Regions from separate parts of the Homo sapiens genome. Here regions 1 and 3 are each linked to region 2. The links come from fine-mapping of genetic effects on gene expression. A gene starts in region 2. Each other region holds a variant in brackets. All regions are shown on one strand. Distances are from middle to middle. Region 1 overlaps ETV6 (ETS variant transcription factor 6). Region 2 holds the start of ETV6 (ETS variant transcription factor 6). Region 3 overlaps ETV6 (ETS variant transcription factor 6).

Region 1 (8,183 bases), 110 kb before region 2:
CAAACGTCAGGCAATTTTTCTGAAGCGTGTTGGCTTAACACAAATTATCAGGAAGTTCAGTGTTTTAAGGTGTAAACTCAGTAACACAATCTTCATTCAATCACAGCATCTTTCTTACTGTTTAATAACCATCTGTGAGGTAGATCATCTCTTTAAAAAAGATGGAAAATAATAGACAAGGAACCTCTTTTTACTTCATTTAGTTTTGTTTCTAACACTCCAGAATTTACACACATACCTGAGACTATCTGGCAGATAACAGTGTGCATACAGGATTGGATATGGAAATTTATCTTCCTTCAAGTTCAAAAGATAATTTGGTTTATAGCTCTGATTTTATCCATCTGGGCCCTCTTGTCAGTAATTTATATTATGCTTAAAAATTGGAAAAAAAAATCAGCCTGTTAGCTTGGATATTCTCCTTCTAACCAATAGATAGAATGAAACAACTTTCATTTGCTCCTCAGACTTTTAAAGAGTAATAGGGTGAAGTGGAAAATAAAAGTCTGGGTTTTGGAATTAGATACGGATTCAAATTGGGGCTCCTCCACTTTCTCTGGGTGACCTCGGGCAAGTGGTTTACCTGAGCCTCAGGTATAATATCTACTGTGCAGAGTTTGTTATTATTCAGGATAATATATATGAAGCATATACATATACACACATATATACATATATACACACACACACATATACTTTTATATACACACACACACACACACACACACACACACATATATATAATAATAGTAGTGATCATTATTTCTTCTTCCACACAACAATGCCACAGAGATTCTCTAGAGTGGCTTTATGATCTTAAACACGGTTGACCTCAGAGTGGCTCCTAAGGAGAAACACAGGCTCCTGTGAGCTGGCAGGTAGGGTACAATGACCAAAAAACTAAAGCTCATTTGCAAAGATGAGCTACTTCTGGAAAACAAATGGGTAATAAAATCCTAACAATGATACTTCTCAATCAGAGCTCCATAAATTGCTGGATACCCCTATAATTTTTAAATGGTGCTATTCAACACCCTAAAACTTGTCCTAGGTGCTTTTAAAAAAGTATTGTTACATCTTCCCTTACAAACCTTCACCCTCCTCAGTGAACCATTTCAGTTAGTACCCCCACCCCAGAAGTAGAGAATTTAGCCTCAGCTGACCTGGTAAAATAGGGTATTCACTGCGTAGCCCTGTGCAGTCAACTTTCCCTTCTAGGTATCCAATCGTCATCCACCCCACATCTACAGTTCTTTATCCATTATCCGTACCCATCATCTGCATTTCTATTACTGGAATCTTACAGCCCCATTTGAGAGCTACTGGTATCCATGATCTGCTGGAAGCAGAAATGGAGACCAATGTTGAAAGAATGGGGTTTTGTCCACACACCCAAGATGGAGGCAGTAAATATTGGGGCAGTGTGACTAATTATACTTGGGAATTTACAGTCAGCATGTGGCCAGAGCCAGGGCCAGTTTAAATCTCTCAAGTCCTGCTCTACCCCTCCTTCAGAAGAGATCAGAAAAATGAACCACAAAACACTCACACATGGTACAGGCAACTGAGAATCAGAATCCACCCATGGCAACAGCAAAAGCAGCAACATCTAAACGTCGCTGCTAACGTTTACCTCTGATGAAGTTGTCAAGGTCATCCTGCCAGAAACCCCAAAAGTTTGAATTACTAATGTGGTGTAACTCACACATGAAGCAAAATGGGAGAAAATATCAGTTATTTGAGCATGGAAACTGCTGTATTTGTATATACTCAGCTCAACCAATGCTTTCTGATAATCAGAGGAGGTGAGAAGTAACTTAGAGAAGCACATTCAAGCCAACACACTGAACCTTTATCACACCTGCCAGAAAGCATTAGGTAGATACATGTAAGGGTGACTGTGGAGCTCATGGACAGGAACTCCTCAATCTGCGGAAACCCATCAAGACGAGAGAAAGACCACAGACGTATTGAGGGTTGGGAAAATCCAAGAGGAAGCAACGGACAGAAGAAAAGAAGAAATGGAAATAAAGTTTCTGATTTCCTGTTGCTGTTCAAGTTTCATAAAATGGACTGGTTCTCATCGTCTTTTATTTTTTAAAGGGTTCTCTTAGTCTGCTATAACCTTTCAGTGTTGAGTCTAGAATAAAGCTGGGCACCTCTGGGCTCACATAAATAACACAGAGCACCAGGTAGGGACAACCCATTGTCAACAGTTTCCAAATGTCTACTTCAGAACTCTGAGGAAAGGGAGAGCCCGTGACACTAATGAGGGGCCGTGCCATCTTCATCCTCCCCTCCCCATCCCCCACAGCGAAACCAGGGCCACTTTGTCAGAGCTGACGCTGGAGGAACTGCCTTAAATGTACACAGAGCTCACTGCATGAAATGTGAAGTGAAAGAAAAGGTCAGTAAACCTCTGGTTATATATTTTTTTTCTTAAAAAAAAAAAGACATCTATAAATAGCTGCATTTATTGAAGCTGCTTCCTTATCAGGAAGCATGGAGCTAGGAATTAACGTCTGCCTGCATCGGAAATTCTTTCAGACAGCAAACCCAAAAAGGAAATTTCCCTTCCAAAGCATCCTGGCTGTTCTGCTGTGGGCTGTTTTTGCTCTTCAAGCTGTTTGAAGCAGCTAACCAGGGCCCTCGTACAGCCACATGTGCCGCGGGGAAAGTAGAAAGCTTCAAGCATTTGGATGTAAAAAGTGAAGGCACCCAAAAGAAGGCTTAAGGGGGAACAAAGTAGAAAATGCTAGTGGCTGGTCGGCTTTGTTAGAAGTCATTACTGCTTTGTAAGACACTGACAGAGAATTAAATCTCTTCTCCTTGTCCTTGTCTCAACTCTGCTGGTGATATCACTGCACGTCACAGGCAGCTGTGAGGAGAGGCCATTTTTGGAACACTGATGTGATAGCAAAGGACAGGGGAGGACTTGATAGGTATTAGAAGAGTGGGGAAGGCTGAAGGAGATTCACAGATTCAGGCGAGAACGGGAAGAAAGTTCCAGACTGAGGGAGAGACATGTGGGTAGGAAAAGGTCCTGGGATGGAGTGCCCTAGAGCAAAACTGAGCCCCTGGAAATCACAGGGGATCGTTTGAAAGCAAAGCTTATTTCCATTGTGACTTAGGAAGATTAGTCTCAATAATACACAGACAGAACCCTAGGTCCTTTCTTTAATGAAACACACAGACAACGACATGTCTGCTTCCCTTGGCTCCTGCATGGGGAAGCCACCTCCTCAACAGGCTATTCACCATAACCGGAAACAGAAATGGAGCTTTGGTGAGCTACCTGGCCACTGCAGGCCAGGCACTATGCCAGGTGCTATACATAAATGAGCTCTGATACTTCTAAGAAGCCCTCATTAGTAGGTGTCGTTAGAAACTTGAGTCTTAGAGAGGTTAAATCATCTCTCTAATAGAGCCAACCCTGAAATTCAAGTCCATTCACGTCTATCCAGACCCAAGCCCTTTCTATTACCATGGTTTTTTATTTGGAGACTTCCAAAAGCAGTGAGACCCTGCTCCTAGAAGGGCACCCCTAGCAAAATGCTGGGGAATTGGGTACTGGATTGAGCCCACTCTCAGAGCTGGCCCATCAGGGCCTACAGGACCAGCCCTGGCATTCTGGTTGTAGGGAGAAATTCAACTCTAACCTGAGCTCGCAAGAGAACAAACGGGGAGGCAGCAGGACTGGTGAACAAAACCAGAATAAACCATCCACAGGGACAGGCTGTTATCCTGATTCCTCTCCCTCATCCTACTACGAGGGAGAAGCCAGTCTGCTGAGGATTCAGCACAACTTCATGATCAGGTGGCATCACTAGAACCACACCGGTCCCAGTCCCTGCACCTGTGGCTGCCCAGACTTCAGCGGTCAGCAGTGCCTCTACTTTCAAGTCCATGAAACTCTTTATGTCATTATGTTTTCTCCTAAAAAAGCTGAAAGGTGGTTTCAAGAAGTAGAAATCACATTCGGCCTTTCACATGCTGTGTGAACCTGGACAATCCAGTTGACCTATCGGAGACACGGTCAGCTCATCAAACAGAATCAATAGCACCTGCTTCAAGGACTGCTGTACAATTAAGTGAGACAATAAGTATGAGCGCATCTTGTTATGTATAAAAATATAAAATAATAATGATGATCAC[G/A]TTCAGCTCCCAATTTTGCCTCTTTTTTTTTGGGAACAAACATAATGTGAAAGCATATAAAATTGTTGCTCTACCCAATTAGAAAAGAGAGGCACTGCATCCCTTCTCACTATGCTGGTTCTAATATAGCTGTGCCTGTCACGTGGCTGTCTTAAACTCAGTTACTCTGCTGAGAAGGCAAAACAGCCGAGTGGGTGAGCAGCGAGGTAATGTTTCCAAAGGAAGGCATTAAATTAAATTATTAAACACACACAAGCAGGAGTAGTAATGTAAGAATTTTGAAAGATTCACAAGGAAAGGAAAGAGAGCCAAGGGACTATTTCTGGTGTTCTGACTCCAGAAAACGCCGAGCGGCTATTATGGCTATTTATTAACCTGCAACATCATAAACCCTAACCCTATTAAATATGATGAATGAGTCCTACGTTCCGATTTTTAAATATAATTCACAGGGATTTTAGAAGGCCAAATGGACACTGCAAAATGCACAGTCTGCGGGCAAATGGCGCAATGTCAACTAAATGTGAAATGATCATGTTTAAAAGAAATTTAAAATAACGACATTTAATTATTTAAATTCTGCCCCATCAATCTGAACTATACTTATATTGTTATCCTAAGGCGGGGCCTGAGCATCACTGTCTGAGGCCCAGTGTTTCATAAGGTAAGCCTCTGCCAATGAGCAGGCTGGCAGCACCTCGTGAGGTGCTGTAACTGCCCCCTTCAGCAGCCACTCCCCCATGAGTTTAGAAAAAGGGCGGCCTTTGGGTAGACAAATCAGAAAACATCCCTCCCTTGCGAGACTACAAGTCCCCTGGTGAGAACTGGGCAAAGGTATCCTTTGCTCCCAGCAACAGCCCTTCTCTGCGTAGAGTCAAGAGTGACCTTGCCTGGGCACCCTTGGGGGTCCTTGGTCTTTCAAGTGTTTTCAAGCTACAATGAAAAGCTTATGTTCCTTTAAAGAATGCAACTTTTTTTTTCCCACCTGTCTACTGTAATTGTACTTCGGCTCTTCTACCCTCAAGCTTCAAAAAAAATTCAGTACCCTTTATGGAAGAAGAGGAAGAAGAAGAAAAAATGATGCCCTTTCTATCCTCTCAACAAACATACTTGTGTTTGCTCTCCCGGTAAGCAGAGGGGTTCTGCTGTAGGACTGTTGAAGGGCACTGTCCTGGTAATCTGGGCAGTGAGTCAGAGCAGGATGGCACGGTCTGGCCTTTCTTCCCTGGGCTCTCCTCTTGCACTCTGCCCAGGCTTCTTTGCCAGTCCTTTTCAAGTCCTCTCTAATCAGCACTTAACACTTTACTCCATTTATCACTTTGCTTTTATCACTGGCAAATAAAAGGAAAAGGCATCACTCTCTACTTCTCAATAACTTGCTAATTTGTCATGCTGTGTCTTCAGTTTGGGTATAGCTCTGTGTTTGCAGAATAAAATGGTGAGAAACTCTCTGTATGAGAACCTTAAATAATATGATCTCTGCTCCTCTTTACCCCCATCCACAAGAATATAAGTTGATTTAAGAATGAAAGAAGAGAAAGGAAGAATTAAGGGAGAGGATTTATCTGGTAATCAATGGAAAATGGTGAAAAGAACCCACTTTGAGGCATACCAATCTGATGAGTATCTCTTTAAAATAAGCAGCTACAAGTGCCTTGGACTTAGCAATACCATAAATGTCCCGCTGTTGTCTTGGCTTTGAGATTCTTCCCCGTACTTTCCATGAGCATTCCACTGGGAATTGTCTGGAATCCCAGATTAAAACAGCAATAACCCAATTCCCTGGTTAGAATATTTATTTTCTTTTAGGTTTGGAAACTCAGCTGGGATGCATCTTTAAGTGTGTGGCACAGCTTCAGTCATCGTAGGGGCTATATGCTCCTCTCAAACAGGATGACAAGCAGCAGAACCCTGAAACGGGAGCGGGAGGACAGAAGCTCAGCCTCATTTGGAAAGTCCCAGCTGAGGGCAAACAGCAAGAGCCTGGGAACCTCCACTTCCAGAGGATTCAATACAGATGTCAGAACCAATGGTGTCACAATAGGTCTCATGCAGACTACCAAGGAGAGGTATATAAAGTTAGACTGCCATAGAGTAGGCATTCAGGCAAAATCATTACCATAATCTGAATCCATAGTCTAACTACTGATGAAATGGAAAGGTTTCCGGGAATGTGCTGCAGTTCTATATTTTATAGCTGTCTACGTGGGGACCCATCCATCCTTCGAAGGGTGATATGCAAGCCATTCAACAACAGATAGAACAGACAGAACAGCAATTAGAATAGATTCCAGCCATAAACCAATGCTACGGCCACACCAGTGAACACTGGCTAAGTGTCAACCCTGAATTCATCCATCCATCCATCCATCCAATAAATATTTACTAAACACACACTTTTTGGTGGTATAGTGGATATAAGATCCTAGGCTCTGGAGTCAGCCAGAACTGAGTTTGAGCCTTGACTCTATCTCTTACTGGTTCTGTGATCGACCTTGAAAAATTACTTAAATTGTCTAAGCCCTTATGTGTGACATGGAGATAGAAAGAAGACCTACCTGACAGGTATTGTGAGAATGAATTAAAAGAATTCCTGTAAAGGACTTCACACAGTGCCTGCTACAGGGTAATCCCGTGATAAATATTAGCTATTATGGTTGTGTGCTAGGCACACAGAAGGCACTACCAAAATGCTGGTAAGCAGCACAGACACGGCTCAATAAGGAAACTGTCTACTCAAGAAAAAATTCAAGTGTTAGTATGGAAGAAACAATTCAAAGCAAGGAGAATGATGCCTCAGATGAGAATCATAGTACTTTAAAGTTAGGAAGGCTGTTAAACATTTTCTTGTCAACACACAGTATTGTATGCTAGGAGAACTGAGTTAAATTACCCACAGTCGAACAGCAGAACTAGCTAAAAGTTAAGATCTCCTGACCTCCAGTTCAGTGTGTTTGTTTGCTTTCTTATTTGTTTTGTCAGGATAACATCTCGTGGAAGATAGTTAAGGAGCTTCCATATGTCAAGGCATCCAGAAGTGAACCAGGAGCGAGGGCCTCCTTGGGGGATGTTGCAATCTATAGGAATAAAACGTTATGAAAGAAATCTCAGCCTGTTTGTGATGAGTGTTTGATACTTTTTTTTTCTCTGTGCTAGAATTTAAGTTCCACAAGAGCAGGGGAGTTTTTTCTGCTTTGTTCATTTCTGCACCCCCAGGACACAGAAGAGTGCCGGGCACAGCAGAGGCAATCAATAACTATTTGTGAGATGAATAAATGAATGAATTAGGTAGCAGAAGTGTTCTGCCTGTGTGGCATGAGTATGTTCCATCCTGAGGCGAATATTTCTGAAGTGAATATATCGGTCACAGGATGACTTCTGGAGGAAAATTTCCTATCACTTGGCTGCTGTTTCTTTTCCAGTTGTGTCTGCTCCCATGGTGCCACAACATTCCAGTTTCCTAAGAACACTGATGTTCCCAGCCATGACCCTGGCACCTTTACAGTTCGAACCTCCTTAAAAGTAGAGGAAAAGATGGTAGAGTAGGGCTGTGTCCTTTACTTCCCTGCCCAAATGAAGCAGAAATGTCTTGACCATAGTAGGCAGCAACTTCGTAAATACTGATGGACGCAGCAAGCTGCAGGAGGGAAAGGATTCTCATGCCTCCAACTCCTCACAAACATCCCAGCAACCGTCTGCCCTCTGGGGCAGAAGGCATAAGCCGGCGGCAGTGTTCCCCCAGGAGCCCCCATATCACAGTCATCTGATTCCCTGAATTACCAGAGAGAGAAAGGAAGAACCTGCATCCTCTGTCTCCTGTTCTCTGCATTCAGAAAGCAACCTTCTGAGGAGGGTGGAACAGGAGGAGAAGAACTGGAGAGCATCACCCTGCTGGAGAGAGATGGTGAGCAAGACTGTGCCACCATTTAAGTCACTGGAAGGGCCAAGGTGACCTCAAGTGTCCTCTATAAGCTAGTCTTGTGCCCTCAGGATAACATTCAAGGCAGAGAAGCTGGCATTTTCTTGGA
Region 2 (8,183 bases):
AGCCCAGAGTCCAGAAGGGGAGCTCGAAAGAGTCTCCCAGTTAGTAGCAAAATTTTAAAAACCAGATTTCCTTCTGCTATGAAAGCTGACTGATACGGACAGCAGGGAAGGAGGGGACTAGAGACACTGTGTGACTCGTTTTTGGATTCTGGTTAGTCCTGGCCCACTAACAAGCTGTGCCAAGCCTGACAAGGGACCGTGTCTGCTAGGCCACAACCACCTTCCGCTGCAACTTGGTCAAACTTAGAACTGAAGAGGTGACTTGAAGGTGAAGGCTGATGATGGAAAAGACAGCCTCTTCCTTCTTCCTGTGACCAGCACAGTCAGCCAGGCAATCCTCTTTAAAACAATTTGACTTTTTATAGAGAGTTGATCCTTTCCTTCCATTTAAACGACCCCAAATGGTCAGGAATTGAAGCATTTGAACTTCCATGACAACAGTGCCACAACCTTCAAGGGTTGTAGGACAGACCCCCCCAGGAGTGCTCGAGCACTCCTGCTTTCTGCAAGTCGCGTGTAGAGAAACAATAAGGCTCAGTGAGAGTTTCAGTGCCCTTGGAGTAGTCAACCTCTCTTCTACCGTAAAAAGTGTGTGTCTGATATTAACTTCCCCAGGCGATGGGAGCAAACTTACACAGTGCAAAAGAAACAGAAAAGCCCTTATCAGGCATTCATTGCGAGCGACCACCACATGAGCCATCTTTACAAAGGCGTCACTGATTGACCAATTCAGAAACTTTCACCTTGGAAACTCCACCCAAATCGGACACTACTCTTTTCTAGCAGAGCAGGCACTGCTCAGAAATAAACAAAGTACTTCCCTCTGTGGCTGCATCTCACCAGCCGCTGAGGAACTGTCTGCCTGCTGACCCGCTACTTGTAAGGAATGAAAGCAAGTGAGGACGGTTTCAGGAGTGGAGAGGAGGACTGGGAAAAACCTCTCCACAGTGAGAGCCTTTTGTGTCACAGGAGTTCGGTATATCAGGTTCATCAGCTCATCCTTGAAAACCTCTGACATTCGTTCTTCACTACACAGAAAAGCATATTGTTTACTGGACTCTAGAAGCAAGCAACTTGCTTGTGGGTTACCAGCAAACATTTTTTATTATGCAGTCACCGTACCACATCCCAAGGACTAAATGAAACGCAGCACACATCACCAGAACATTTCAGATGACCTGGAATAATCCCAGTCCTTGATCTCTAGTGCTTATTATTGGAACACTGAATTAAACAAACTCCATGGAAAGATACTCTTCACATACGTTCACCTAGACACATGCAGTCTAAGCAAATACATACTCGTTCCATAAAGAACGATCCAAAATAAAAGTGATTCTTTCCTTTCTGGTAAAGAACATTAAATCTATTTTAATTACATAGAAGTACACAGTAATGAAAAGAGGCACCCTGAAAGAACTGAGTTGTAAGCAATAAGGAAAAAAATGATATGCAAATTACAGACAATTTTCATGTTGCATTTAAGAACGCGTTTTGCTTGGGATTGGTTCTGTATGTGAGTAAGGCAAGGGACTGTTGTACTCTTTTTCCGACTGGAGCACAATGAAACAAACCACTCAGTAGCAGTCTGCAGCCAGCACACCACCATAAGCCCATCAAAACGGTGGGGATGCAGTATAGAAGAGGATCAAGAAACGTCACAGAAAGCATTGTTTTTTGTTGTTTTTGCCCTAAAGTTACTGATCTGTAGTTGGCAGATTTTCCTGATGTCGGGTTTATTGCCACTGAGCCAAATACAATTTATTTATTGAATATCCTACTATTTAGTTACCTCTATGTTATGAAGCGTCAAATAAATTAGATTATCTATACCGCAGGATTTTCCTGAACTCTGTGTAGAATCTAATTTATACCGCAAAAGAAACTGGTTTTGAAGTATTAATATCAAAGTACCCTAAGTTCTTTAGTGTGGCACGCCCCATGCCCACAGACATACATACTGCTACCTCCAGTTATGTACAAACACAAAAGCCTAAAAGTTCCATTAGGCATTTTTGTGAGGCAAAAACAAAGAAGCCCAAACCACCTTTTGATTTCACATTAGCCTATCCTCAAACCCATGAATATCTTTTCTGATAAGAAACACCAAAATGTGATTCTAATTATAAAAAACCTAGTAAGCACGTATGATGAACTACTGCGTTTCCCCTACACAGACTCTAATTGAAAGGCAGTGTTAAACCAGGAAGGGTTTTTCTAACTCCCCACAGACGAAGAAAACAGGTTATTTGTTCATTGTTGCTGTAGTGTCCATTCAGTGAACACACATTAAATAGGCCAAACCAAAAACAAACTTCAGCAGCTTCAGCCTCTCACAAGAGCGGAAGGCTTTCTACCTGGGTACTGGTGGAACAGCGAAATGAATAAAGTGTACAATAAATGCAGCGATGGGAAAAATAACACGGGTAGATGGATAAATCATCCTGCCTCCCAATGGTGGCAAACTTTACAACAACTTTTTAGAAGCAACAAACCGCAGCACCACAGTCTTTACAGATATATAGACATGCATACACACAACTACTGGGTAGCCCAGCAGTGTGTTTACAAACATCTACCGCCCTGCATTTACAGAGTGCTGCTTAGATAGCCTCTCTGCACTGTCAAACACAGAAGGTCATTTTGCCTGGTTGCTTAGTTCTTCCTCTCCCTCCATCACAGGAGTTTTCTACTTTGGGATTGCTCAACTTTCATATGGATCGGAGTAAAATAACTATTCAGCAACTTTATTCACCTTGGTTTTAAAAAAAAATTCATTGTGCAATGCCTAGGAAAAGCTGACACCAGGACTGTCTCTCCGACAGCGCTTGCAATTACAATCAGACGAGGGGGAAAAAAATCCTGTCTGATCAGACCCAGAGAGTCCTTTAAAAAAATAAAAAGATTCTATCGCAGTGGAAACTGAACAACTTTTTTTCTAAGACGACCACCCCTCGGGAACAAAAGTTATATTTCAGTCACATGTTGGGTGTAGGAATAGGGAGCAGGTTTTTTTTTTTTGTTTTTTGTTTTTTTTTTTTTTAAGCGCACTAATTACGGGGGTGTTTTACGGTTCTGGAGACAATCCGGGTTGCTCTGACCAATTGTGACCGGCATTTCATTGTCAAAAAGCAAGGGGGTGGGGGCCGAGGAGCCGGCAGGGGCTCGGCGGTGGGGGGGAGTAGCAAGGTTACGCTAAAGGGTACAGCAGCCACCGCGAGCTGCATCTCTTTCCCTCTCGCCCCAAATAATTTCCTGCGAACAGAGCAACTGCAACAGCCTGCTCTGAGGAGCCCAGCACGACTGCCCTGGCCGGTGCAGCTCAGGGTTTCCACCACGTAGAAGGAGGGGAGAAGATTTTTACCTTAATGCTACACTGAGCAGGAGTCTCAGACATGTCTCACAGCGAGAGAGATCAGGAAGTTCTCAGGTTTTTTCCACTTTCCTTTCCTCTCCCCAACCCAGAAAGGCTCCACGGCCAGCCAGACGCGGTCATTTAAGAAGTTTCTTCCAGCATCTCTCCCGGCAGCCGCCCCGGGGGTCTGGAGCGCGCGGGGCGGGGCGGGGCGGCCGGCGGAGTTGGGCGCGCGGGGCGGCGGGGGCGTGGGAGACGGGCCCGAGCGCGGCGGCGGGGTCTGCAGGTCGCGGCGCGGCGCGGGGACCCGGGACGCAGCCCGGCCGGCCTCCCGGTCTCTCCTCCCACCCGCAGCCGGCGCCCCCGCCCCCCGCCCTCCCGCGGCTCTCCCTCGCTCTCTCGAATGTTTTCCTTCCTGGAAGAGAGAAACTGAAAGGCAGAACTGAGAAAGCTCTTTGCTCATTGATCTTGAGAGTTTCAGTGCAGAAACTGACGTGAATTCCCAGCACTGAGCTCTGCCTCTTAAAGGAGCCACCAGGAAATAAAAGCTCGGGTTACAGCCCGGCATCGGGGAAATAAAAGCTGCGCGGGGGAGGGGCGGCCGCGGGGGCGCGGGCGGAGGAAACCCGGGTAGCGGGGCCGCGTGGGGCCGCGGCTGCGAGCGGGGCGAGCGGCGCAGCCCCCCAGGCCGGCCCCCGGTGCGGGCGCCCGCCCTCCACGCCGCGAGACCTCCCGCTGGCCGAGCCAATTTCCGGGCTTAAGGAAGACACCTTTAAAAAACGTTACATTGTGGCCCCAGACACCACAAAACAGGTTTTATTAAACTCCTCCCACCTCCCCTGGCTCCGTCTCTTGGATACATCGATGTGCACAAGGGTTTTGAAACGTTTCACTAAGCGCAGATGCAACGAAAGTAATTATCTATGAAGGGCCATTCCGGTTAGGACGCGGAATCCGAAGGAGGAAATAAAACAATAGCCTTTGTTCTGCTTCTCGACCGCTGCCTCTTTAAGAGAATCCACCAGGAAATGGGAGATCGGGTTACAGCCTGCACACGGGGAAATGTGGGGAGAGCGGGCGCCCGAGCGCGACGCCGGAGACAAAGCCGGGGCGGCCGCGCCGCAGACGCTGGGGGACCGTCGGGCGGGGGGATTCCCGGGGAAGGTGGGCGCCCCGGAAAGAGGTGGCGCCACGCGCCCGCTCGGGGATGCGGCGGCCGCGGGCGCTTCCCGAGCCGAGCACGCGCTCCGGGAAGGGAAGGCTGCAGGGCAGTTATCAAAGGCAGCTGAGTTCCTTTTCCTGACCTCCCCCTCCTGTTTCGAAATCCACTGCCCTTTTAAAGAAATAGCGGCCGCTACCAACCGAAATAGGTGACTCGACTACAAAGTTGGCAGGACGTGTTCCTGCAGATAATACCCCTCCCCAGGACCGCTTCTCTGAAACCGTCATTGGCCGGTTGATTGGATGGCCCTGGGATCCTGCAGGGGGAGGAATATTTGGTTGGAAAAGCAGTTGAGGGGGGTTAAGGCCGTTGGGGCTGAAGGGTCTAGCCCTGAGCACAAGTGATCTGATCACTCTATTATTTTTATTATTATTTACACTCTCTTAAAGTGTCCACCACAAAAAACTGAGAACATTATCATTATACTTAAATTCTAACCTTGTTAGCACATATTGGGGGTTTAATATGTGGATGTGTAATGTAAAAGGAAATTTGTTATAATTTCTTAATAGAGTAATATATTAAATATGGTATAAATATGTATATACGCATATATACCCATATATGTTACCTGCACTGGACCAGGACACATTTCCCCGAGTCTCCCCACCCTACAGATTTTTCCTACCCACTTTCCTTCACCTCTTCACATTATCAAATGTGTTGAGACTTGTACACACAATATTTTTGTTCACACATTGATCAGATCATTACGAACGAGGCTAGGGTGGGAAAGAGTGCTGTTGCTGGGATGATGGGAACTGGTGGTTGTGAGCCTCCAGGAACCTGAACAGGTTTTGTCAACTGGTAGTCCTGCCCTCTCTCCAAGAGATCTCTGTCTTGTCCACACCGACTCCTCTGCCTTTGACCACCCCCTTCTCCCCTTTAACAATTTTCTGTATTCTTTTGCTTTTTTTTTTTTTTTTTTAAGACGGAGTCTGCTATGTCGCCCAGGCTGGAGTGCAGTGGTACGATATCGGCTCACTGGAAGCTCCGCCTCCCGGGTTCACGTCATTCTCCTGCTTCAGCCTCCCGAGTAGCTGGGACTACAGGTGCCCGCCACCGCGCCCGGCTAATCTTTTTTGTATTTTTAGTAGAGACGGGGTTTCACCGTGGTCTCAATCTCCTGACCTCGTGATCCACCCACTTCGGCCTCCCAAATTGCTGGGATTACAGGCGTGAGCCACCGCGCCCGGCCTCTTTTGCTTTTCTTAATTGATGTTGCAGACATTGGTTTAGATGTCCCATTGCTAGGTTATGTCTTCCACATCACTTAGCAATGTGATCCCTGACAACACAGTCACTAAGCTTCTGTAAAATGGGGAGAAATAGTACCTAGCTCATAAGATTATCTTATTAAATAAGAAAATATATACAAATGCCTCCTTAGCAGAGAGCTGCACAATATATGTGCTCAATTCAAGTTGGCTACAATTATTATTTAACCCCAGGACTAAATTAGTTCTCGACTTTTCTTCCTAACTCCTCCTCAACGTCTACAAGTGATTCATAGAAGTAGTAGTTTGAAGTAGAATGTTTGTGGTTCCAAAGCAAAAAACATAGTTGACAACTGTAGCAAAAACTACATTTAGACCAGGGGTTGCCAATCTCTGTAAAGGGCCCAGCTGTAAATGCCTTAGTCTTTGTGGGCCAAGAGACAAAATTGAGAATGTCAGGTAGATACTTATATAACACGAAGAAAAAAAAGTCCACAGTTTTTTATTTTGTCAATTCAAAGTGTAATAATAGCAATTTTAATACAGGTATAATAATGAAAGGCATGGAATTCTTTTGGGGGGAAAGTAACATTTCACTTGGTGTTCAAAGTGTTCTTTCATAAAAATTGACTGCAGATGTTCATCTATTAATGCTGATTTTTTATGAGATTTTATGTACTTCATTTTTGAAATGTCTTTCTACCCAGACAGATACCGCCAAATACTGATACCAACCCATGAGCACATGATTTTACTTGAGTGTATTCATTGCTTAGAAGGCATTTCTAAAATTCTATTAGAATTCTATAAATTCTCTTGATATTTCCCCTTTAGCATGCCATTACATTGCAGATTAATCACTTCCAGTTGAAGGTTAAATGGAAGCTTCTCAGTTGCACAGTTAAGTAAATTTTAAATATGAAAATTTCCTTTGCACTTGCATTGAAATTCAGAAAACACTGTTGGTACTGTAGTTTGAGTTCAGAAAAACATAACTGCTGCAAATTTGTGTTGGAATGGAGATCTTGCTTCTTGTTTTAACTTTTGACAGCATGAGAAGTGTGTAAAACAGCTTGACATTATTTGTGATTCAAACAATGTTAGTTGTGTCAAAATGATTTTACTGCAGTTTAAGTTTTGCATATAAGCTCTATTTTGCCTTGTAGTTTTAGGTTAAATTCATAAAGAAACATTATTGAGTCTGTAGTAAAAGCTTATTTGCAGAGCCATTCAGTGTTCAATAACAGTGGTTGAGGGAAGTTTTTCTCATTCATTCATTTCCATTTGTCGCTTGTTTCTCTGTTCCTTGTTTTCTGAGAACTTATGGGTAAATTGGATTTTTTTCTTTCATATTCCATTTAAATTACTAGATTGTCTTTTTAGATTTTCTTCTTTATGTTAAATATGGTGGTTGCTTTAGAAATTACAATTTGCGTATGTTATTATCACAGGCTACCTTTAAATAATATTATTCTATTTTATGAATCTGTAAAAAAGTTACAATGTAATTCCATTTATCCCTCTCCCATCCTCTGTATTGTTGTGTTATATTTTACTTCTATATGTTATAAAATTCATTTTACATTGTATTTTTATGGTATTTAGAAATTTGTAAATATATGCATATAATGAATGTATTAAAGTATGTCTCTTTTTAATTTGCCCAGATATTTATCCTTTCTAGTACTTTTTTATTCCTTTTTGCAGATCTGGTTTTCCATCTGGTATCTTCCCTTTGGCCTCAAGAACTTCACTCAGCATAGCCTGTGTGCTGTTTGTTGGAGAAGTCTCTCAGCTTTTGTCTGCCTCTAAATGTCTTTAGTTCATGTTCACTTTTGAAGGGTATTTTTACTGTACGTAAAATTTTATGTTGACATTTTCTTTTCTTTCAGCACTTTAAACATGTCATTCCTCTTCTGACTTCATATTTTGCTAAAAAATCACTTGTAGTACATATTTTGGTGCCCCTGTGTACAGTGTACACTTTTTTCTGTAGCTGCTTTTAAGATCTGCTCTTTAAATTAGGTTTTCAGAATTTTGACTATGATGTACACAGGAGTGGTTTTCTTTGCATTTATCATTTATTCACCTTGATGTCAGCTGCAGTTATTGGATCTGTGGGTTGGTATCTTTCATTAGTTTTAGAAAATTGTCATTTATTATCTGTTTGAATATTTTTACACCCATTCTGTTTCCTTTTTTTATTCTTAATACAAGTATTAGACCATATATTATTGTTCCATGTATCTCAAATACTCTGTTTTATTTCCTTGTATTTCCTTTTTTTTTTTTTTGAGATCAGCTCAGGCTGGTCTCGAACTCCTGTTCTCAAGCAATCCTCCTGTCTTAGCTTTCAAAGTGAGATTACAGTGCTAGCCACCACACCTGC
Region 3 (8,183 bases), 180 kb before region 2:
AATGCTTTGCATATGTAACTCATTTAATCCCTGCAGCAATCCTGTAAGACAGGAATGATCCCCATTTATGGAGGAGAAAACTAGAACACAGGGAAGTTAAACGACTTGCCCAAAGTCACTCAGCCAGGAAATGGAAGAGCTGACATTTGAATCCAGGTGACCTGGCTCCGAGCCCACGTTAAAAACTACCTAACTCTCTAAGCTTATTTGGTGTTTTGGCAGGATATCAAATTAAATTTATGACTAAATTTTAAAAAGAAAAAGTTTCACGGTAGTTCAGCATGCAGGCACTGAGCACAAGCATGGAACCTCTATTTCCCAGCTGTGTGACCTTGTACAAGTTACTTAACCTCTCTGTGTCTTGCTGGTGTCAACTGAAAAATGAGGACAACTTTCATCCTGTGAATTAAATATCATTGAATCATAGATAATGTACTTATACAATTTTCAGATGACATAAAACTAGTGTAGAGTAAAATTATACACATGATGATGATATGAAACACACAGGCCAATATCTGGCATAGAGCAATCACTTAAAAAACATTAGCTATTGCTTTTGTACTGTTATTGTTATAATCACCTTTATAATCTCACCCTACCTGAACATATATAGCTAGCACTTGGAACCCAACTGTAAGAATGTATATTAATTGATATTACATTTTATCTTATTATTTTTAACCATCATCCCAGCCTGCTGCAGTCTTCTCCAGATTTCCATCGATTTCTAGCATCTATACTCTGTAATTTCACGTCATCTGTGGCTTTGCTAAGCATCTGTCACCTCCACAGGTTACTGACAAAGTGCAGATCGTATAGGGCTGAGATGGGAGTACCCTGGTGACACACCAGTCACCTCCTTTTGGACGGATACTGATCAAGTTATTGACTCCTTTTGGGAAGAGTTGTTCAATGATCAATCCATCTAAATACTCTGGTTTTTGGACATTTTCCAAGCTCATCCATGAAAGCAACATCAGAAATTCAACGAAACGCCTTCCTGATATCCTGAAATACAGCAACTACAACACTTAGAGCAACCTTATTAAAGAAGATGAGGAGAGAGGATGAGGAGCAGATGGCTGGCTCCAAAGTGATAATGTCTTCCACTCGTAACATGTATGTTTGAAAATCTGTCCTGAATTTTATCTGGAAGTTCCATCAGGTTAGCTGTTTTATTTCGTACCCACATTTTCCCCAGCTTCTCTTCCTAAAATCAGGTTACCAACAGTTCCTATTCTTTTAGTACAGCTTCCATTTCCCACAACCCTGAAGGATCACTGCCAGTGGCTTATCTTTCACCCCTCTGAGTTCTCGACCCTGGGATGTCATTTGTCCGGGCCAAGAGCCTTGCATTTATTCAGAACTTAGTTTGCTTTTACAATCAATTCACCCATCTCAGGCTTCAATTCCCTTCTGTCAATGTTTGCACTACCTGTTTCAGTCTGACAATCATTCTCCTTCATGGGAGAGAGAAAGAAGTTGAACAGTTTTGGTTTCTTTGCCATTTGCTGATGTTACCCCATCCAACCCCATCAGCAGGCTGACATCATGCTTATTCTTATCCTGCTGCCCACATTTATTGTTTTCTTAAGCGTATTCCATGGTTTTCAGCTCACTTACGTTTTAAAATTCTAGAGCTCAGAAACTCTCCTTTATATGTTTCTTTTCATTAAGTTGCTTTTTCATCCATTATATACATCTTTTTAAAAATCGGAGCTCATTAGACTGGTACTCACAAAACAGTGAGAAGATAAATTGGCATCATCTCTCTGGCAAACAACTTAGTGATATTTTAAGAACCCTGTAAATGTTAACTTCTCAGAATCTACCTTAAAGAAATAACTTAGTATGTGGAAGAATCTTTCATGCACAAAGATGTCTATTGCAGTGTTATTTTTAATAATGAAAAACTAGGAACAGCAATAAGGAAATAAGTAATAGTTACTGACAATATCTATGATAGAAAATTAATGCAGCCAGTAACATGATGAAGAGTATGTATTCATATTGAAAAATAGTATGTGTACATATGTAATAATCTCAATGCATAGAAAAATACAATGAAACGTAAAAATATTCAAAGAATTGACACTCAGTAAAATTGTAGGTGATATTCCCTGTCTCCTTTTCCTTTTTTCTTTCTTATTTCTCATTCTCTATTAAGCATGTTTTACTTTTATATTTAAAAAACTATTTAAGGGCTGGGTGTGGTGGCTCACACCTGTAATCCCAGCACTTTGGGAGGCCAAGGCCGGTGGATTGCTTGAGGTCAGGAGTTTGAGACCAGCCTGGCCAACACGGTGAAACACTGTCTCTACTGAAATACAAAAATTAGCTGGGCATGGTGGCAGGCGCCTGTAATCCCAGCTACTTGGGAAGCTGAGGCAAGAGAATTGCTTGAACCCAAGAGGTGGAGTTTGCAGTGAGCCGAGATTGCACCACTGCACTCCAGCCTGGGCAACAGAGTGAGACTCTATTTCAAAACAAACAAACACACACACAGACACACACAGACACAGACACACACACACACAAACTATTTAAAAATTGAGCTAATCAGAGAATATCCCCAATATCGCCTCATCAGTTTCTTTAGTTGTCTCCCTTCCTTCTTATTCCAATAAGGGTCATATGCAGTTGATAAGTCAGGATTTCATTTTCAAGAGCAGCCCAAATGACTCTGAGTTGTGTCTCAGCATTCAGATCATGAGATCATAAATACTTTTCCCTACATTTTAAAAATTTGTCTTAAGTCAAGAAAACACATCTGTTCTTGTCTCTCATTTCCCTTCCCCAATCCTAAAATCATGTTTTTATTCTCACCCTCTGCTATCATTTCTACTTTTCCAGACAATTCCTCATTTGTCAGATTTGAGTGCAAATTAGCAATGCTCCTCAATGCATCTTCCACCTTCTGGGAGATGAAATTGTGAATTGTTAGGTACATGTGTTAAGAGTTAACATGTCCATGCATGTAGCTGAAGGGGATTTTGCAGTGATTTGCACACGGTGCCTGGCACATAACAGTCCCCAGGTTTAATGCCAGACTGTACAGCCAAAGATTTCCATTCCTAGGCAGTCCACATCTGAGCCAGCTCTGCAGTCTGTGATTGGCACCCCTCTCCTCCCCGACACATCTGATCACTTACTCCAGCTCTGGCTTTGATGGTCAGGACACTCAGCTCTGTGCAGTTCAAAACATTACCAGATGCTTCCGCATCCATGTCATGCCATCATCTATTCTGCGAGGGAGCTAAAGCTGGCACAACTGTATTTTCAGAAGAAACTGAAGTTCAGAAATCGAGGGACTTTCCCAAGGTCACAATGAACCTAAGACCAAAACTCCAGCTCCAGGCTTTCTGTATTACCCAGTGAACTTCCCCTGGGTTAAAGGAAATAATGGATGTAAAAGCCCCTTGCACTCTAAAATGCACTGTAAAAATGTTAAGGGAATGAGGAATAATAAACCATAAACTCAACTTCTCATGGCAGGCCTGGTCTAGCTGCAGATCCCGAATACTGCTCGGTGCCCACAGAGCACCTTCTGACCTCTGCTTGCCGAGGGCAGGGTTTACTTAGAGTTCTTCCCTGTGTACTCTGCCCTTCAAAAGAAAACCAAGTGTCCTCAGAGCCCTTCAAGCTGCTTCCCAGAGGCACTTTTCCGGAGACTTTTCTGCCTCCTTTCCCTTCCCCACCGGCCTGCTCTCTGCAAATCTGCTCAAAACCCCCAGGCCAGCCTTGGATGCATTCTGACAAGCTCCACATCTCACTCCTCTGGGTCTGCCTGTAATCTTGAATGTGCTATCTGACCAAAGCTGCTTTCTGCAAACAAATCCTGTCACTAGGGAATTGGAAGTTCCAAAACATTTCCTATTTCTGTCCTCAAGGTTAGCCTGTATCTCAGCACTAAGTTTCCAAGTGGAGGTCGGAAGGTTATACTCATGTCTTTCAGCCCAAAGTCCAAGAACAAGAACACTCTATGTTCATGTTCAGATCCAAAGTCACAGTCAATTCCCTCGAATGATGTTTTTTCTTATAAACTTCATTTTGTGGATTTTTCTGACTTTTATCTAGTTTTAGCTACAAACGGGTTTTTAGCAGAAAACCTGTTGACAGCAAAACTGACCCAGAGCTTGCCGCTCAGCCTCACAAACGTGACTTAGAAGAGTTCTTCTCATTTTTGCTTCTGGGTAGCAAGCCCAATGTGGTGAGAGCCATGTAGCATTTTAGATCAGACCTTGGGTTTCGCAGTCAAATTGTCCTGGGTTAAAACACCGGCTGCACCACTTACTAGCGCTGGGTTAGTTACG[C/T]GTCTGAATCTGTTTCTCCAGCGGTAAGATGGAGTCCAGAATAGTACTTACCTCTTAGGGCAAATGTGAGCATGAAATGAGGTGATCCCTATAGAGATGTTGCACAGTGCCTGGTACAGAGCAAGTGCTCAATGCATTTTGGGGGGTTGGGTAGGACAAGGACTGGATAGTAGATGAGTTGTACTTTGTCCCGTGTCTCCAGAAGACCAAAATACTTTCAGCAGCTCCCTGGAGCTGCAGAAGCTGGAGCAAGCATTCTTGGAAGGTGCATGACGGCTCTGGCAGGAGCTATGAGGCCCAGTACAGTGCTTTGAGGAGGGGACTGAATTGTCATCTTGCAGGCTGGGAAAATGGCTCAGGTGGGGTTGCGGAAAACAGCCTGGATCAGGGAGAGGTTGGAGGAAAGAAGGCTGAAGGAGGTGCCCGCTCAGGCCCCAGGCTAGGCTGAGGCAAGTAAGACATTTGCCCCAGGAGCAAAATTTAAGGGGTACCTTTAAAAAGTTTCAGTAATCAAGATTAAGTCATGTAACGCAATATTTTAAAAATCAAAATTAATGCAGAAAATGTATGGTGACGTAAGCATCAACATTTTAATTAAAGTCCATATCAAAAAGAAAAAAGATAATGGGGAGGGGACAGCAAAAAGGGAGTGGGGAAGAGATTAGAGCAAGTACTTCTCAGCGTTAGGAAGAAGGTACAGGATTCTTTGAGAATTCAGCCAGAGTTCATAAACAAACCCCCCTTCAAAATGCACAGGCACATGGACACAAATATTTGCTTGTGATTTCAAAGCTTATAGACTACCTCAAGTTTATCCATGGATCCCTGGAGAATCCGTTTAGTATTTTTTTTAGTCTCGTGTATGCAAATAGTTCTGACAATATGTACCTGTGAGGTAATGCGAAAACCAAATCAGGTTTAAGAGAGATATATGTCTCTCCTGATATTTCAGGGAGAAAAACAGAAAAGAGAGACACGAAGGGTGCCCTCTTCTCACTTAGAAGTGGGGGTACAATGAAATGTTTGAGCTGTCATTTCTTTATTTGAAACGCACAGTCCTGACCTTAAATAGGGAATGTCCCTTCTTCAGTTATTATAGACATCATTGCTAACATATTGAAAGTTTTTCTTCATAGTAGTTAGGGTCAATCACTGCAAATAACCTTAATTTACGTACAATGAGGCAACTTGGCTATGCAAGGAGAGATACTATACAAGGATGAGTTTCTAAAGCAAAGAGGCATTAAGGCAGCATTTCCTATACTGCAGGGCAGAAAGGTCATTTTTATTATCAAACTTACTGATATGTATGCTTACAAAGAAGCCTGAGTTTAAGAAGAAAAAAAAAGTAGGAAAATAGATATTAAGAGTTGAAATGTTCCTCAAACAGATTTATTGAGAAATCGAAACTGCTGGAGGAAAGTTGGTGCAAGAATGTTTGTAATCCTCAGCAGAAATGGATGGGGTACAGAGAACATAAAGATCCTGCAGGATTTGCATGATTCACAGAACATGGATACTCTCCTGAGGGTGCCTGAATAAAGAGGGATGAAAATTCTTTCCCCTCCTGCTCTTTTAAACCGCACACGGACCATCTCTGGTGCCCGGCACAGTCTGCAGAACATTCCTGTGCAAAGTGTAACCAGAGTAAAACTCATTCTCATTCTGAACTGGGACCTGATCTGTCCGTCACTTGCATGGAGGAGGCTTGGCTTTGTGTGGCTCAGCTGTGCCTGTTCCCAGCCCTCTCGGGTGTCTCTATTCTCCTGCGAAATTTTAAAAAGCCTCTTCTCAGGATGGAGACAGTCCTGATAATCACTGAATTCCAGGAGGAGGAGGTGGAGGTGGACAGGAGGTGTGGGGGCAGGGCGCGGGGGCTGGGAGAAGGGAGTGCGAAAGAGGTGTTGAACTTTTACATGAACAGACCTCAGAAAATACACATAGGGACCCAAAGGCAAATCTGACCTACAGCACCTCCAAAGCATGGCTTTTCTAGAACATGCTGTTTTTTAAGGAGAATTCCACTGCACCCCCTTCTTCCTTGTCCTCTTCCCTGGCTCTTTGGAGAGTGCTTCCAAGTGCTTTCAAAGGCCCGGTTGGTTGCCTTTGGGTGTCGAATCTACCCTCCACCGAAAGGCTGTCTGGGCTGCTGCTGATTCAGCATTTCGCGGGGCAGACTGCTGTGACACACAGGCAGGATGAAATCATTTTAACAGCGTTGCTGACGCCTCATGAAACAAACAAACAAAAAAAAACAAACTTGGAGAAGCAACTTCTATTTAAAGATAATTGTGTTGCATTTGTGTGTGTGTGTGTGTGTGTGTGTGTGTGTGTGTGTGTGTGAGACAGACTTCTCTCTATTCTATTCTATCTCATCCCCTTATTCCTCCTTTCTGAGGACATTCATACGGAAATGGCTTTTATAGACCTATCAATAAAAAAGCTGTAATCTTTTTTCTCACCAGTTATTAATATATTCCCTAGTATTAGAGTTGTAAAGGTTACTAATCCCCTGGCTTAAGATGGTCACTTGGAGTCAGGAAAGCTAAACACCACCACAAAGCGAACCCCGTCTCCCCTTCCAGGGCCACAGATATGTAACTGGATGTCTCATGCTTTGTCCCTGGGCTTATCTGAGACTCCAAGGCTCATACTGGGAGGCCCTCCCTTGCTGCAGAACACTTTTCTCCTTGGCTCTGTCACCCCACCTGGGATTTTACATTATTCATTCGTTTGGATGAAAGCATGAAGATCTCTGTACCAGAGGAAGCAGGCAAAAGGAAAATGATAAATCAATACAGGCTGTTCACACTTAGCTTTGGTGGGTAGTCAGATGAATGAGTGGGGAGGAATGAGTCAGGTGACCCTTGAGTTTTAAGGGCAGACTCCCAAGTAGGTGGCAGGGGTCCTGGAGGCAGGATGGTAGGAGTGACAAGAGGTAGGAGCCCTCACTCCCTTCGGCCCGTCATCATTCATGGCTTACGATTCTTCAAAGGTGCTTTTCATTCTGTGCTGGAAAAGGTATGAGTGTTAACAATATAGATGTGAATATTCTGAGTTCTGGAAAGAGGCCGATGTCTGTTTTTTAACTTTGACATGGGAGTCTGGAAAATCTGTGAAGAGCATGAGTGGCTCATCATGGATGGAGCAAGTAATGCTAATCCACCAAGTGCAAAAATGCTCCCCTGAGGTTGGGCAGAGCGTAAGATGGGGTGAGGTCTCTGGGCGGTCTGCAGGCTGGCCTCCTGCTACCCTACTATTTGTAAAAGCATGCTGTTGGCCAGGTCCTGTGGCTCACACTTGTAATCTCAGCACTTTGGGAAGCCAATGTGAGAGGACTGCTTGAGGCCAGGAGTTCGAGACCAGCCTGGGCAACATAGCAAGAGCCCCATCTCCTTGAAAAACAAAATAAATTAGCCAGGTGTGGTAGTGCATGCCTGAAGTCCCAGCTACTCAGAAGGTTGAGGTGGGAGAATTGCTTCAGCCTAGGAGTGGCTGCAGTGAGCTATGATTATACCACTGCACTCCAGCCTGGGTGACAGAATGAGGCTCTGACTTTAAAAAAAAAAAAAAAAAAAAAGGCATGCTTTCTACTGTTGTTGGCAAGAATTGCTAACTTAATGGAAATATTTAAAATCTCTCTTAACCACGTTATAATAAAATGAAACAACGAAATTCAAATCCTGTTTTTGTCACTTACTAGCTCAGTGACTGGAGATGGCTGAATGTTGGCTGCCAAATAGAAATGTCCGTGTCCTAATCCCCAGAACCTGTGAATAAGACCTAATTTGAGAATGGCTCTTTGCAGACGTCATTAAGTTAAGGATCTCAAGATTATGCAGGTGGGCCCCAAATTCAATGACAGGT

Evidence for each region. PIP is the estimated chance that this variant, and not a neighbour inherited with it, causes the effect.
Region 1: its variant is fine-mapped to the expression of ETV6 in whole blood (TOPMed, PIP 0.97).
Region 3: its variant is fine-mapped to the expression of ETV6 in whole blood (TOPMed, PIP above 0.99).

Annotation. Positions count from the first base shown.
Region 1 is chr12:11,753,431-11,761,613 of GRCh38, reverse strand. All of the region lies in intron 2 of ETV6 (ETS variant transcription factor 6), which reads right to left. Among named protein-coding and RNA genes, the nearest start is that of ETV6, 110 kb to the right of the region's middle. RefSeq lists enhancers at 2,939-2,988, 7,986-8,035. The variant G/A (reference allele first, on the strand shown) is at 4,156.
Region 2 is chr12:11,645,342-11,653,524 of GRCh38, reverse strand. ETV6 (ETS variant transcription factor 6) reads right to left here and starts at 3,851. Exons shown (of 8, transcript NM_001987.5): 1 at 3,365-3,851. The coding sequence starts at 3,397. RefSeq lists enhancers at 322-371, 702-811, 4,849-4,948 and silencers at 3,499-3,658, 3,669-3,718, 3,929-4,138, 4,429-4,668.
Region 3 is chr12:11,825,547-11,833,729 of GRCh38, reverse strand. All of the region lies in intron 2 of ETV6 (ETS variant transcription factor 6), which reads right to left. Among named protein-coding and RNA genes, the nearest start is that of ETV6, 180 kb to the right of the region's middle. RefSeq lists a silencer at 1,351-1,420 and an enhancer at 3,248-3,447. The variant C/T (reference allele first, on the strand shown) is at 4,317.